Linked DNA regions of Homo sapiens: region 2 is linked to region 1. Evidence: fine-mapped expression QTL. A gene starts in region 1. The other region holds a variant in brackets. All regions are shown on one strand. Distances are between the middles of the regions.

The links. PIP is the estimated chance that this variant, and not a neighbour inherited with it, causes the effect.
Region 2: its variant is fine-mapped to the expression of BEGAIN in blood mononuclear cells (TOPMed, PIP 0.91).

What each region holds. Positions count from the first base shown.
Region 1 is chr14:100,585,098-100,590,457 of GRCh38, reverse strand. BEGAIN (brain enriched guanylate kinase associated) reads left to right here and starts at 3,041. Exons shown (of 7, transcript NM_001385089.1): 1 at 3,041-3,209. The coding sequence starts at 3,168.
Region 2 is chr14:100,544,200-100,549,559 of GRCh38, reverse strand. It overlaps BEGAIN (brain enriched guanylate kinase associated), which reads left to right. Exons shown (of 7, transcript NM_001385089.1): 3 at 2,898-3,059; 4 at 4,494-4,560. Among named protein-coding and RNA genes, the nearest start is that of BEGAIN, 41 kb to the left of the region's middle. RefSeq lists an enhancer at 2,502-2,631. The variant A/G (reference allele first, on the strand shown) is at 2,708.

The DNA.
Region 1 (5,360 bases):
GCATTGGGGTAGGGTTAAAGTTTGCTTTGGTTTTGGGTCCCATTAGAGTTAGGTTTAGCATTTGATATAGGTTGGAATTTGGGTTAATATTGCAGTTGGGGTCATTGTTAGATACACACTTGGGCCAATTCAGGGCCTTCTCACCACCTGTGGAGGGCAGCTGTAGCCCGATTCTGCAGGGGACTCCAGAGTTTCAGTTGGAGCACCTGTTGTTTGTGGGAGAGTGGGAAGATACCTCTCACCTTCCCATTCTCTAGGGCTCATAGTCAGAACCCTTGCTCAATCTGTTCTTGTGGGTGGGGATTGGAAGATGAGGCAGGGAACTGGTCAGCATGGCTAGCTGATGCTGGAGCCCCTGTATGTGGCTGTCTGCGGGTGCCTCACTGTCAATGACTTCCCTGACGTGCTGTCCTTTCTTTTATACTCAGCCACCAGGGCCAGAAGCCTGGCATCACACCAGGCTATTCCTATCTCCCCCACCTCCATCCATCCATGCATTCTTTGGCACATTTAACCATGAGCCCCAGTGTGGTGCCACTTCCTGCCCTGCTCCCTGACCACAGTAGAGGACCACGCATCCCAGCGGGGAGATTGATGTCCACATCAACAGACAGATCAGATAGCTCTGGAACGCAGTAAGAGACACGCAAAAAACAAAATAGGGCAACGAGATTGAGCCATGGGGATGGTGATGTCAAACAGAGTGGTCCGTAGAGGTCTGAATGAGGGCAGGGGCCTGAGGAGAGGGTCCTCCATGGCCCCAGGGCATCACCTCGAAGTCCTGCCACTTTCATCCCTTCTTCCCAACCCGGCTGAAACCTTGCCTCCTCCAGGAAGCCTGCCTGATGCCCCAGGCTCTGCTGCACTGACTGTAGTTTCCCCATCTGCAAAAAGGGGCTAGTACCACTTCCCCTACAGGGGCATTGCAGGGATGCTCCCAGACCCACAACCAATGCCTGCTTTCTCTCCGCCTTCCTAGCTTAAGGGGGCTGGAGTGGGAAGGATAGAAGAGAGGGCAGGGAGGGTGGGGACGGGAGGTGCGTGCAGCATGGGGGAGGGGCTCTCCTGGGGCCTTCCCAGGCAGGCCTGAGCTGAAGCCTGCAAGCTGCTGGAGCTGAAGCAGGAGCCGCCCCCACCCCACCCGCCCCTCCCCCGCCTCCCCAGCCATCTGTGGCGTTGGCAGCAGCAGTGCCAGGGCGGGCGGTGAACATTCTGGCACCATCTGAGCAGGACCAGCCTCTGGGGAAGGGCCGCAGCCCAGGAGGAGGCAATGTGGGCAGAGCCCTGCCTGTACCCCAGGTTCCACATCCCCCATTGGTGTTTGTCCCCTTAGGGACTGGGGAGGGAAGGGACACTGGAGCTGGCAGGCTGGGCCTCACTACCTCTCACAGGATGCCTCCACTGCTGTGTGCTGCCTGAATGGTGTCTGAACCTGAGAGGCCAGAGTGGAGGTCAGGGAGCCTGTCCCTACTCCTGCTGGGGAGACTAAGGCCCCCTTGAGCAAAGAGGCTGGTCCCGTGGTGCACACCAGCGACGGTTTGGGCGAAGTCTGTCCACGCTTCGCCCAAACTGGGAGAGCCCCGCCCTGAGCTGCCGCCTCTCATTTTGTCTTGACTGTGGTGGGGTGCACTTGGAGGCGCCTCCCTCTGTCCATTGGTTACCCAATCATGTCCCTGGGACCTGAGAGGGAGCAGAGACAGGACTTTGCTTGACACGAAGTGGCTCCAGTCAGCTGCTGGTTCTTTTGCTTGTCTCCTTTTTTTCTGGGTTTCCCCTCTTGCCTTGCTATCAGTGCCTTTTCTCAGCACTGACACTGCCTGAATGTAGCAACCTACTCCCCAGATTAAATGAGAGAGCGTAGAAACTGCAAAGCATACAACATACAGCATATAAGGATGGTGGTGATGGCAGCTCAACAGTGGGAACTCAGTGTCCCCAAACTGTACACTTTAAAAGTGGTTAAAATGGTAAATTTTATGTTTTCCATGTTTTCCACAATTAAAAAACAAAAATATACAAGGTACTCATTCGCAGCATCTTCTAATCTGCCATGTACTTGGAAATGATATAAGCATGTGTGAACCATGAGCCCATAGGTCCCGAGGGAGGATATGAGCGAAGCACACGGGCTTTGCCAGCTCTGTTTCCACCACGCAGGACCCTCCCTGGCTGCCAGTGCTCCTCCCCGGGTTCCCACGCTGGCTGCTGCTGGGCTGGCTGGGATGGAAGACCCTCATGTAGCTGGCACCCTCAGGGCTGCCCCTTGCCCGCTCTGGGAGGAGAGAGGAGGGTTCACGCTGCACCTTTACCAGGGTAGGACTGGCCAGCCTGGGCTCTACCGGGCAGGTCGGTGGGATGCTTCAGACTGGAGGGATAGGCAGGGGGCAACACTGGTCCTCCTGAAGCCACCTTCCCTTCCTGAGAGCTCCTTGGGGAGAAGGCAAGCCCTGGAAGCCACCGACTGGGGGCTCGGGCAGAGCAAGGGCAGGGTAAGGGGCAGCTTGGCCAGGAGGCACCCTTGGGAGCCAGGGTTTCCTCATCTGTAAAATGTGACTCTGCGAGGGCAGGAGCTTGGTTTCACTCGCTACTGTACCCCCTGGGGCCTACAGCAGGGCTGGTTGGTACACACTAGGTGTCTAATAAATGTTGAGGGATTGAATGGATGGACCGATGAAAAGGTTGGGCAGGTCATTACTGACAGCCTCTGGGTTTCAAGGGCCCATTCACTCTGTCACTCACCTTCGCGCCCGTGCATTAGTTCTCTCATTTATTCATTCCCCCCGCCCCCCCAGCCCCGCATGCTCTACCGCACTCATTCATTCACGCGCTCAGCCATTCAAGCTGGCGCGGGTTCATTCATTCCCTGCCCCTCTGCCATTCCTCGCCTGGCCCCCGCGCACGCCGCACCCCCGCGCCCCTGCCCGGCCCTGCGCCCACCACTTGCGCCCCGGCCGGGCGCTGCCGGGAGGACGCGCGGGCTCAGCCGCGGCTGCGCGGGGCCGGGGCTGGCGGGGAGCCGGGCTGGGGGCGGGGGGCGGGCGCTCCCTGCGGGAAGCCGGGCGGGGTGGGGGAGCCCCGGCCGCGCCGGCTCCCGGCGCGCTCGGCCTCGGAGGGGAGGGGGCGGCGGTAGCGGCGGCGGCGGTGAGCGGCGCGGCTGCCCTGGGGCCATGTGGACTGGCGGTCGCCGGCCGGGCCGGCTGCGCCGGGCGGTGAGTACCTGCGAGCCGGGAGGGCAGGGCGCGGGCGCGGGCGCGGAGGCGGGGCGGGCGCCACCCACGCCTGGGGCGGTCCCTGCTCAGCGCGGGAGGTGGCCGGCCCCCCGCCCCGCTCCCCTCCGCGCTGCGCCCCCGCCGTGGAGGCTTCACTGGCCCGGGAGGAGCCGGGCCGGGTCTCCTGGGAACTGGGCACTCTCGGGTGGGGCGGGGATGCCCAGCCTCCGCGCGCCGCCGGGAGCGCCCGGGTCCTATCGCGGGGTCCTTGCGCCCTGACACGCGCGCCCCTGCGGCGGAAGGAAAGGAGGGACGGGTGACCAAGGGCGCGGCCGGAGGACTGGGGACCCGCCGCTGTCCCGGGCGGGTGGCGAGGGTGCGGGCAGGCCTGGACCCGCCTGCGTCTGGGGGCAGGGCCAGCCCCTGCTTGGGAGGCCGGAGAAAGGCCCGGGAGCCGGAAGGAGGCTGGACCCGGGGCCGCCTCATTGAGCGTTTGCAGCGCGTGGGCGCGCACGAACCTCGGACACCACCATCCCATTCAGTACCTCGCGGCAGGTACTATCCTCCTGCCCCTTTACAGGCGAGGAAACTGAGGCTCAGGGAGGCCAGGGCCTCGCCCAGAGCGGCTCAGCCGGCGCGCTCACCCTCCCTGAGCCCCAGCACGTTGGATGGGAATTTCTGCCCCAGCGTTTCCGCTTCCTGCTTGGTTTAGAGGTGTTTCCTTCCTCGTCTGTGCCCCACCCCATCCCCAATGTGGTTTCCTCAGGGCAGGAACAGCGTGGGCGACGCGCTGGAGTCTCCTGAGCCGGCAGAATGGGAGCAGAGTGGGCACCCGGGAGCGGGGCCGGATGGATAGGGAGCACTGCACGTGCAAAGTCCGCATGGCCAAGGTCGGCCGCCAGTGCAGACTGGGGGTCCAGGCCCTGGGGGTATGGGTGGGGCGGGGTCTCCACAGCCAGGCTCCGTCGGAGGCCCCAGTGCTCTGGCTCTCTGGAGGCCATGGACAGGTTCTTTTCCTTCTCTGGACCCTAGTTCCTCTGCCTGCCAAGAGCAGCAGAGACCCCCACTACTCCCAGGGCCAGGCTCCCACGAGGACTGTGGGCAGAAGCCCCTAACAAACTGCGGTGTGCAGCCCTGCCAGGCTGGCCTTGGTCTTGCCAGCAGGGGCAACTGGCCGTTGGGGGTGGCTCTGCCTGGCATCTGTGACACGCAGGGCGGGGAGACGGCAGAGAGGGCCCCAGCAGCATCCTGCAAACCCTTAATTTTCCCGACTCTCACTATAATCAGGGCAGCTTGGAAAAGCAAGCACTGTGGCAGATGCGGCTCTGCCCGGGCTCAGCACACGGGCTCTGGGCGATGGGCGGCTGCGCTGCCGCCAAGGGCCCTCCCCAGCTTTTGTCTCATATTTATAGATTCCAAGGCTCCGCGTTCCGTTTGTCGTCAAAACCTGGAGCTGTTCGCACCTGGGAGCTGAGTGGGGAGGGGAGGGCTGCCTAGAACCTCAGCCTGGAGGATGAGTTTTCCATGCGCTGGGGTGGAGTAGGGGGACACCTGTCAGAGCCCAGGCCTGGAGAGAGGAAATGAGCCCTAAGCAATCTGGAAGATCTTCCATCCACTCTCCCAAGACTTGGGCGCAGGGTCTGGCCCACATAGCTGCCATTTATGGAACGCCTGCTATGTACTGGGCCCTGGATCAGCATTTCCACGCATCATCTCCACGGCAACACTTTGAAGGAGCTTCCCTACTCCTGCAGGCACTCCTGATGCTGAAGAGTGGATGGATGGATGAATGGATGGATGGATGGATGGATGGATGGATGGATGGATGGATGGGAGGGAGGGAGGGATGGATGGGAGGGATGGATGGATGGGAGGGAGGGAGGGAGGGATGGATGGATGGGAGGGAGGGAGGGAGGGATGGATGGGAGGGAGGGAAGGAGGGATGGATGGGAGGGATGGGAGGGATGGATGGATGGGATGGATGGATGGATGGATGGGAGGGAGGGAGGGAGGGAGGGATGGATGGATGGATGGATGGATGGATGGATGGATGGGAGGGATTGACTGAAGCCCATGAGTCCATGGCTATTGGACACAGTCCACAAATCATTACCCAGGGTCCCAGGAGGTGGGGTCCAAGGGCTGAGTAGT
Region 2 (5,360 bases), 41 kb after region 1:
ACCCGGGTGACCGCAGACCCTAGGTACACAGCCTGGACTGGGCAGAGGGGACACGTTCAGAGGTGTGAGAAGCTGAACCCCCAGGACTTAGTGACAGGGCTGTGAGGGGTAAAGAGGGGTCACCATGCCCACCCCCCGGGTGGGGAACGTGGAGGGCAGTGAAGGTGTGGTGGATGTGGCTGCATTGGACGGGTTGGGTGTGGAGATGCCTGAGGGCCATAGGTGGGTGGCTGGACGTGGTGAGGGTATGGAGCCTGACAGACACCCCGCTGGAGTCAGATGGAAACCTGGGAGGGGTCCCTGTGCAGCTGGCTTGGAGGGGATTTGGTCTGAGCATGCAGGGCAGGGGTGCAGGTGCAAACCGGGGCCCCAGGGAACAGCCCGGGCGAGGTCGGGAGGGGCCTGTGGTGTGATCGCCGGACCAGCAGAGGTGGGGAAAGACGTGGCAGGAACCCTGGGGCGGCCAAGTGCGGGGCATCAGCTATGCCTGGGGACGGGGTGCGTGTCCATGGCCCGATGCCTGCAGCAAGCGGACACTGAGGCAGAGAGGGGTGTGAGAGTCAGGGGCTGGGGGCACTGCTAGCCCAAAGATTGGTTGGGTGTAGCAGGTGGTTGGGTGTGAAGGACTTGGGGAGGGGGAGCAGTATTTAAGGGCTGGTGGAACAGGGAGTTGACTGCTGTATCTGGAAGGCCATCCAAAGGCCAGGGGTAAACTGAGGCTCTGTGAAGCTGCCTGACTTGTGAGATGTCTGCCCCGAGCCCACCCCATAGCCCCTTCGTCCTCCCCTCCCACACCTGCCCCGTGGAGAATCCCTGCCTAGCTCATTGTCTGCCTCCCCTCTGGACCGCAGGCTCCCGGGGCAGGGGCAGGGTTTGTCTTACTCCTGGCTGTGAGGTCTCAGACAGGTTGCTTGCTCTGAGAGGTGAGGGTAGGGACCTCAGGGTGCCCAGAAGGGGCAGGGCTGGGTGAGGGGGCACAGTGAGCTAGGGGTGCAGGTCTCAGAATAGCAAGGACCTAAGGCTGCTCAGTGAGGCCTGGGGTGTGGCTGGAGAAGGGGTGAGGACTCGGGGCTGAGGTGGCCACGTGGGTGGATGGATGACGCCCTCACCTCTTCCCGAGGGCTGTGGGTACACCAGGAGCCCCTGCAGGGAACAGTCGACTTCAGGGGCTGCTGTGCAGCCCATTGTGCCTGCCCTAGGAGCCCAGGATGGCATAGGAGTCCCCAGGAAGTTCACCACCTCCCTGGGGAGGACAGGTCTGTGTGGGAAGCAGCCTGGGACCTGTAGCTATAGAGTGCTAGAAGTGGGGCAGCCACGGAAGGCTGCCTGGAGGAGGTGGAAGGAGGCCTGAGCACTGTCCCAGAGAGCGCTCCCGGAGGCAGACCCACGTGGGCAGCTGTGGCACTTTGCCTCAGGGCTTCCCTCTTTGCTTGTTACTCTACTTCCTCTTGTGGTGACTGACTCTTGGGAAGACCCGCCCTGCCCTTCTCTGAGGTTCTCAAAAACGTAAGCGACGCTTTATTTTTATTTGTTTTTAAAAATATAGCCCTGGGCAGGAATCCAAGAGTGCTTCCTGGAGGCTTGCTGGGTGTGTGCCCGCAGTGCCACATGCGGTTTACTCACGGGGCCCAGACAGAAGATGCCTCTGCTCGGGGCTGGGGGACAGTGGTGGCCCCAGGGGGACTGGGAGCCTCCTGCCTGCCCTCTACTCCCCTCGCTTGGGTTTGGGTCGGGAATATCACAAGAACGCGGGCTTTTGCCCAAGGTCCCACAGCACATCTGGGCAGAGTCAGGGTTCCAGGCCCTCTCCCACACCTCAAGTTTCCTTCATGACACCCGGGACTTCTGCCTGTCCCGTCCCCATCTCACAGCAACACAATCCAAAAGATGTTGGTCCCAGATAGCCCCTGGGCTGTGCACCCATTGCAAGGAAAGAACTGCTGGCTGCTGACCCCACTCTGACCCAGACAACCGGAAGTGCAGCCCCTGCCTTGGGGAGCTCCGAGCCATCCCTGTTGGAGGCCCCCACACTACCCTCCTGCCTTTGCACAGCTTTAGTTCAGGTGAATTGTTGGCAGGTGGCTCGGAAGAGTGGGTCATAGTGGGTCTCTGTTTCCTGAGCATGTGGGGCTCTGCATCCTGGGGTCCTACCCTCCAGGAGACCCCATTCTGGGGGAAGAAAATAGAGCCTCAAGAATTGTCTGGGTTTCTGGAAGGCTTCCTGGAGGAAGGGGAACTTGAGCAGGCCAGGACCTTGCCAGGTTTCCCGTGCTGCATGCAGCCTCATTGGCCATGGTGGCAGACACTGCCCGGGCATGGGACATTGCCACCAAACATCTCTCTGGCCCAGAGAAGTGACCCAGGGTCCCAGGGCCACACAGCCATTTTGGGGAAAGCAGGTCTGGTCTTGGGCATGGCACTGCTGACTCTGGGCCTCAGCCATCCCAACCTAGCACTGTGGAGGAGCAGGAGTGAGGGCCCCAGTCACCTGTGCCACCCAGGGCCAGCTCTGTGATAGCCTGGGTGCTGATGGGTGCTCTTTGTACCTGGGTCCTTTAAACCGCCCCCAACACACTGGCCAGGTTCTGGGGTCAAAGACTCCTCCAGCCACCACCTGGGATTTACCTGTGTGAGGGACACTGGTGGAGTCTGAGGAACCGCCCAGGCCAGACTGGCTCAGGGTCAGAGTCCCTGACTCTGGGGCGCC[A/G]TGGTCTTCAGTGACGCCCGGGAGGCTGGGTGTGTGTGAGTGTGTGTGTGTGTGTGTGTGTGTGTGTGTGTGCGCGCGCGCGCGCGCGCCGGTACTCGCGTGTTAGTGCGGCACGCCCCGGCTGGCCTGCGGGCCTTAGTTTCCCCCGCTCAGCGCCGCGGCCCGGCCCGCCGCCGCCATGTCGTTGCAGCGCGCTGCAGGAGCAGAAGGGCGAGCTGCGCAAGCGGCTGTCCTACACCACACACAAGCTCGAGAAGCTCGAGACCGAGTTCGACTCCACGCGCCACTACCTGGAGATCGAGCTGCGGCGCGCGCAGGAGGAACTGGAGAAGGTCACGGAGAAGCTGCGCAGGTGAGGGGCGGGGCGAGGGCCGGGGCGGGGCGAGGGCCGGGGCGGGGCGAGGGCCGGGGCGGGGCGAGGGCCGGGGCGGGGCGAGGGCCGGGGCGGGGCGAGGGCCGGGGCGGGGCGAGGGCCGGGGCGGGGCGAGGGCCGGGGCGGGGCGAGGGCCGGGGTGGGGCAGGGCCCGAGGCCCGGAAAGCCGCACGCGGTGCTCCCCTCTCACCCTGGCTGTTGACTCCACTCAGATGGGGAGTCCAGAGGTTCTGGTAGGGGAAGCTCTTCCTCCAAAGTCACACTATGGAGCAGCTGAGCCAGGATTTGAACCCAGCAGATCTCCAGACCCAGACTGGTCCACCCGGGGCCCAGCCATGGTTCCCTGGGTCCTGATGGGAAAAGCTGTGTCTAGCCCGGAGATGAACCAGTTTAGGGACCCTTCCCTTGAGCGCGTACGGGCTAATGAAGTGTCGATCCAGTTGTGCTGGACTCCCTCAAACACCAAACTTTTCTAAAAGCAGTTTTCTTGTGCACATTTAAAATGGATGTTTTTCTGAAATGTAATATGCACTTTCTCATCTTCTTAAACAGAAAATGCAAGAAGCATGCAACCTTTGCTGTTGGCTTGATTTGTTTTAGGTATTTGTAGAGAATCGGCTGGTGTTGCCCCTAGGGAGGACTTGCCATAGGGAGAGGGTTTGTCCCTCTCCGAACAGCCCCAGCTCCTGAGTGTTTTGAATGTCACCCTCCATTCATGTGGAAACCAAGCTTGGGCAGTGCAGTCAGACCTCAGTTAAAATCTGGGCCCTGCCAGTTACTGCTTTAAGTAATTAAAGTTTCACCTCAGTTTCCCTATTGGCAAGACAGGGGCCATAACACGACACATAGGTTGTCTGAGGCTGGACACCATCCCCAAGCCCCCTCCCACCAGCAATGGAATCTCCAAGCACCTGATTCCCACCTGACACTCAGCTCCACTCCTCCTACCCGGCAGAACCGAGTCTTGTTCACTGTGATGTCTCCAGCCTCACCCTGGGGCCCATCACATAGTTAGTGTTAAGTTTCTTCCCTGCTCATTTGCATTTGAACTGTCAACCCCATAACAGGTTTGTAAGAATTGTGGGTCAAATGTGAGTAAACTGGCTCCGCGTGTGGATGGGACAGAGTCTCTTGTGAATAACAAGCCTTCCCTTCCCATCTTCAGGGGGTCCCGGGGTGGAGGGGGAAATACAGTCCTGGGCCCTGGCCTAGGAAAGGCTTCTACAAAAGTTTGCTTTAATGGGATGTTCTCTGCTGTGTGCAGAGGGGCACACATTCCACCAGGGTGAAGCTGGTGGGGTGAGCTCAGGAGGTCCAAATTCAGCCCCACCCTGCTCAGCAGGCTGTGCGGCCATAAGGGTCGTGGGAGGGACAGGCCTTGCATGGCAGTGACCCCCTTGCCTCCTGCACCAGGATTCAGAGCAACTACATGGCACTGCAGAGGATCAACCAGGAGCTGGAGGACAAGCTGTACCGCATGGTGAGGCCGCCACGCAGCGCCCACTCCCCCACCCCACACCTCCTTCCCGGGGGGAGCCACCCAGCTGACACCCCTGGGCCACTCAGGAGCTGGGACACAGGTCTTGCTGGTCCCACCCCTTTCTCCATGGAACATGTGGAGCAGGGTGTGTGCTCTCAGGCTAAGGAAGTACTTGGGTCCAGGGCTGCCCTGTGCTGCCTGAGTGGCGGGTGCGAGCACTCCAGCCTGGGGGTGTGTAAGAGGGGCTGTGGACGGAGGACATACACTGGGAACGGGCCCCCCAGCTCAGCCTGCCAGTCCAAGGACCTGGGCCCAGGAGGATAGGGAGGCCCGAATTCAGGCCCTGGGTGAGCCAGAGGCAGGTTTGAGCCCCAGCTCCGCCTCTCATGGGGACCCCTCTGTGGGGACCCTCACACCACCTGCAGGTGACCTCAGTGGGGTCGCCATTTTCTCTGTGAACACACTGCTGGGACATGTCGAAGAGGGGCAGGGTGTGGGTTTCTGGTGCCACTCCCTCACTAGGATGAAGAGGTTTCCTTTCTTTCTACTTTGGTGACCAGCTCATTTTGGTTTTGAAAGCAACAACCTGCCCACCTTTGTGGTGCTATCAGAGACGGGGGGTGGCAGGCCTGGGGGCTGGGCCTGGCTCTGCCTGGGTGCCTGGACACCGGCCCTTTCCTGAGCCTCAGTTTCCCAATCTGTCCAGTGAGGTGGGCTGGGCTCTATGCCAGGCACAAGTCATCTGTCCTCCGTCCCCACTCCCAGCTCCTGAGGCAGGACGCTGTCACCTCTGTGTTGCA